Linked DNA regions of Homo sapiens: region 2 is linked to region 1. A link means that fine-mapping ties the variant in region 1 to the expression of a gene that starts in the linked region. Tissue or cell type: whole blood. Region 1 holds a variant in brackets; the other region holds the start of a gene. All regions are shown on one strand. Distances are between the middles of the regions.

Region 1 (2,500 bases):
AGTACTGAGATCATCGTCTGTTATTCTTAGCAAGGTTTTTCAAGGATTTGGATGCCCTCCTAGAAGACAGATTATATATCTGCAATAATATTTGCAGAGTGCCCATGGACAATTCCTTTTTGTTCTTTCTCTCTTTTTTAAAAATTATGCTTACTTTTAAATGTTTGTATTAAATAAGAAAGAGGGAGAGGGAGAGACCCTGCCCATCAGATTCCTGTGATGTGATTGGATGTCTCCACCGGTGCACACTTTTTTTTTTTTTTTTCCAATTGTGGGCATCTGAGTCATCCTTCCTCAAACCCTGAGTGGATTTGGCCATTTCTGGCCCGAGGTCTTTGGATAATTGGAGCCTCACGTCTGCAGGCAGAGGACTAAGCTGTTTGGATAATATGTAGTGCATTTTATAGTGAATAAAAGGATGGTAAACTAAATTCTTTTTAGCTGGTCTTTGCTTTTTGGTGTCCTAACCTTTCTGTTTCTTGGGTGCAGCAGGATGGGACTTCCTGTTTTTGGGCTGCACATATGTTTATGCAGGTTTGCCTGAAAACTATCCTGCTACCTACTGGGTGTCCACCAACTGGGCATCACCCAGAGGGAGCACCTTTTCCTATGCTGCGCCAAGGCGGCAAATGGGCTGACAGTGGTCTTGCCTGTTTGCAACAGAGATAAAGCTGTTTAAACACATACCCTGTGTTTAGACCAGTATATGTGCTGGTCACATGACACTGGCTGTTTCTTTCACACCACACTACTGGCCTGTCTCCTGGTCTGTTGGTGGCAGACATTTGCTAGGTGGGCCAGGAGACAGGCCAGTTAGACAGTCTGAAGTCTCCCCAGATCTCAGAGATTGTAAGGCATTGTCATGGCTCAGCGCACATGACCCAAGCAGAGACATGGTATGAACTAGGGTGGAGGGACAGAGCCCTGGTGGTCACTGTAAACTTCTGTCTGTCAGAATCAGCCTCTGTGGCAGATGGAGTGTGCTGAGCATGGACCAGGGCAGGCTGGTCCCGGAAAGCTCCGGTGGGGGCTTTTATGTGGGTGTTGCTTTACCTTCCTGGAGCCTCAAGTTTTCCTGACATGGGAAAGTTGACACTCTCTTCTTAAGACAAGAAGGATCTTAAAATAATATGAGGTGCAGACATGTTAACAATTGCTCCAGCACATGCAGCTGGTGAAAGGTAGTGTCAGAATTCAAACTCAGGCTTCTCTCGTTTTTAAACCCTTGCTTTTAACTTCTTGCTATATTGATTCTGTAAGATGAAGAAGGTTACTAAAGGTAGCTAAAAAATAAAAAAAATATTGCTTTAAAAATATTTCTATAACTTAGACTAGTTTAGGCAGTTCCCATCTGGTCATTGCTAATTGGGGAGCTTATCTTGGAGGTGTGATTACTACCCTGCCCTTCCTGCTCCTGCCAATGGGAGGTGGTGGGGGAGTGGGGCATGGAAGGTTGTCTGAAATCTTCAAAGACAGTGGGATAGAAGCTGCTTTGCC[A/G]TAACAGCCAGGTGGACAATACCTCCATGTCCATGGGCAGTTCTTGTCCAAATTGCACTGTCTTGGCAGCTTCTATCACTGCAGCTTGATCCCGATAGGTGGGAATTACGCTGTATTTGAAACTCAGCTCATCTATAGGCAAATTGTATTTTCGAGCATGATTTTGAAGAGTTCCTGTAATTGTGAAAATCGGAAAGCTGCGTTCAAACAACACTGCTACTCCCCAGGCACTATTCCCCTTCATCCAAACCAGGCTGCCCTGGCATTAGAGAGCCTTCCCACCACAGAGAAGACCCAACTCTTAATACCTTCCTCTGAGTTAGTTCACAGGGTCAGGAAGCCTGCGGGTCATGTTGGGAGGTAAGGGCCCAAGGGATGGACAAGCTCTGGTCCTGGCTGGGAAGGGAGGGAAGGCCAGTGTTCAGTGCATTGCCCTGTCATGAGGGAGACAAACCAGTGAGGCAGTTTCAGAGCCCAATCTCGCTAACTTTAGGATTTTGCCCAGCTTGTTTTATATGGGCTGTTTAATAGGTATTAAGAATGAGAGAGATGAAGGGCTTGGGTAATTAGCATTGAGTTGCTCACAGGCTCTAGCCCCCTCTGAGGCTCTCTAGCCAGATTCCCCAAGAGCTGATGGAGGCACATCAAGAGAATTTCTCAGAGGGAAGGGAGCTGCTCACAGCTGGGGCCTGAGCAGGTGGACAGCAGTTGATGCCCTTGAGCGTGGGTCATATGGGGAACTGAGGCACATTCTGTGTTTGTGGAGGCAGCAGTGCCTGCACTTATGTAACCTGAGAGGGGCAGGGATTAGGTTGTTGGGGAACATCTGCTATCTCTGCCATCTTTCCTCTGCCCCCCACAAGTGAGGAAGAGCACGACCTTGTTAGATTGCCCTATGATCAATAGCCTCATTGCTAGAGCATTAGCAGCCATGTCATTTCCCCAGCACCTCAAAACCCTGTGTATGAGAAGTCATGGCCATTCCTATGGGGTTTTTCTAGAA
Region 2 (2,655 bases), 300 kb after region 1:
AAAGGCTCTAGTTTTATAGGCTGCTGTCGTTTTCTTGTCTTCTCCTGAGCTTTTGTAATGTGCCTAAACGTTAGGATTTGTGTATCAGATTCATTTTCTGTGGATGTCACATAACTCACTCTTTGTTTGGCTTTTATATTATTCAGTCTTGAAAGTGCAGAATTTTCGGCATACTCTTCAATATTTGTCAGGTCAAATTCACTATCTGTGGCCCGAAAAGTCATCCTTACTCCTGAAAAGAATAGGTGAGGAAAAAGAAAATGAAAAGTAGATCAAAAGGATTGGGGAAGGAGGCTACTGGAGAGGGACTTAAGGACTAGGAAGAGTTGAATTCGCTCACTTCCCTCAAATAAAACCCATCAAAGTTACCCCAGTCTTCCCGAACTGAGGACTTGAACCAAAGGAATAAAAAATTAGAAACTGTGCCTAGGCTTCAAGAACCCCTGTAGCTAGGGTGGAACCCAGGAATTTGCATTTCTTGCAAGTTCTTGGCGGATGCTGCTGCTGCTGCTCATCTGGAGACCACACTGGTCTAGATTTGGAAGGACAAAAGGAAATGTAATTAGTATTGAGATCAATGTTTCTCATCTCCTGCGGAACTTGTTCAAAATGCAGCTAATTCTAGTACACGCAGTCTGAAAAATACAGTATAGGTACTCAAGAAGAAACAAAGGGAAAAAAAAGAATTGAGGGCTAATTTCTTACACAGTGCTTCTGGAGCTTTAACGTGCAGGACAATCACTTGCAGAGCTTGTTAAAATGAAGGTTCTGATTCATACACTTTGAGTAGCAAGGTCCTAAAACACTAGAAATATGAGCCTTTTGTAATGGTCTTGCACTCTGCACCACCACGCACACTTTCACCCCATTAGATGAGTGGAGATACTTCGAAACACCTTCCAAAATAGGGTTAGCACAAGAGGTCTTGAATCAGGTGTCGGCAGACCTAGGTTTTATATAGATCAGTGCTGGCCAATAGAAATATGAGAGCTTTGTATGCAATTTTAATTTTCAAGCAATAGCATTTTTAAAAAAGAAATAGGTGAGATTAATTTTAATAATATGTTTTATTTACCATATACAAAACATAATCATTTGAACACACAGTATAAAAATTATAGTGATATCTTATGTTGTCTTTTGGTACCACGCCTTCAAAATCCAGTGTGCTTTTTACATATGAGCACATTGCAATTCAGACTAGCCACACGAGGTCTAAAGATTACCGTATTTAACAGCGCAGGTCCAGATTTGACCACTCAGCGTGAGATCTTGGACAAGTCTTTTGATATCGCTATTGCTCACTTTCCACCCCTCTAAAATGATGGGCGGATAGCAGACAATCACTGAAATGCCTTTCCATTGATTTTCTCTGCCTCTTTGAGCCTTTATGTTCTCCGAAAGTCAGACTTTGTTTCTGGCCCAGAAATCGGAGCCCAGGCCCGAGGGTCGGTTCCCAGGACTCACCAAGTCAAAATACAGCAACCACCGCCGAGGGTCTCCAGAGAGAGCAATGCCTGGTCGGGAGTAGAAAGTACTCGGTAGCGCGGAATGTTTCCTGTTGCTGCGTAGCAACCAGCTGGCCTCTACGGAAGCACTGCGCCACTGAGTAACACGTCGCCAGGCAACGCCTCAACCAGCCACAGCTTTCGGTCCAGGAGCGCGCCAGGCAATCGAGCCAATTAGTGTCTCCGAAACATTTCCTACTTCGCTGATTGTTGGAGAAGCCGCACAGCCTGGTTCCTCCTCTGCGCTGGGAATTGAGTACTGTGCCAGGAGGTGTAGGCAGAGCAGCCAAAGGAGGTGGTTAATTCTGTTTGCTTCGTTGCTTATCGACCACTCACACCCATCTCAACCTCTTACAGGAATTTCTTTTCTGTTTTCCTTCAAGAGGCGTAAGACTGACTTGACGTTCACTTTAATAGAAATTTATCCGAAAGAGTCGAGAATTTCAGGAGAGGAATGTGGGTTGTGTAGACAAATGAGGTCCCACTCTCCAAGGAAGCAACCACTCTGCATCCCTGCCCTACCCGCCAACCTCCTCCCGAGTGTCTTAAGGCTCAAGAAATGTGGCCTCCTCTTCCCTTAAACTCCACTGTGGCCTTCCAACTAATGTCCTTTTCCACTTGGAAGGTAACCTAGGTGTCAGGCATAGGATGAGCCCGTATTACTTGGTTCCCGTGCCCCTTCTACCAAAGCAGACCCTGGATCTTATTCTGGCGTTTAATCTCACTTAAGTTCCCAAGTGACTGTTGCTAATTTTGTATGGAGCGACCCCATCGAAGGCCAGGGCCTGTTGCTTACTCGGGATGCCTTATCCCAGTTACTGATCAGGGGAAGAAATCCTTTCACCTGTCTTGATGAATCCTTACACCACATGGAGGAGCTCTGGTTTTCAACCTTGTCTCCAAAATGACATAATCATCATTTTCTTTTGCTCTTTTCGGTTGCTCTTTGTTACCTTGATATTTGTTTCTTGCTCTATGTGAAGTTCTTTACATTATTGTACTCACAGCCTGCATCTTCTCAATCTTAACATATTCAGTTATGTATTTGATATGGTAGTATGATTCTCTAAATCACAGATAGAGCTAAAATGGAGATTACAGGTCACATAGTCCAACTCCCCTATTTGATTTGTAAGGGAACTGAAGC

The links. PIP is the estimated chance that this variant, and not a neighbour inherited with it, causes the effect.
Region 2: it holds the start of DNAH6, and the variant in region 1 is fine-mapped to the expression of DNAH6 in whole blood (TOPMed, PIP 0.92).

The regions. Positions count from the first base shown.
Region 1 is chr2:84,813,142-84,815,641 of GRCh38, reverse strand. DNAH6 (dynein axonemal heavy chain 6) reads right to left here. Exons shown (of 77, transcript NM_001370.2): 75 at 1,520-1,671. Among named protein-coding and RNA genes, the nearest start is that of TRABD2A, 67 kb to the left of the region's middle. The variant A/G (reference allele first, on the strand shown) is at 1,498.
Region 2 is chr2:84,515,396-84,518,050 of GRCh38, reverse strand. It overlaps DNAH6 (dynein axonemal heavy chain 6), which reads right to left and starts at 1,553. Exons shown (of 77, transcript NM_001370.2): 1 at 1,468-1,553; 2 at 1-232. The coding sequence starts at 224.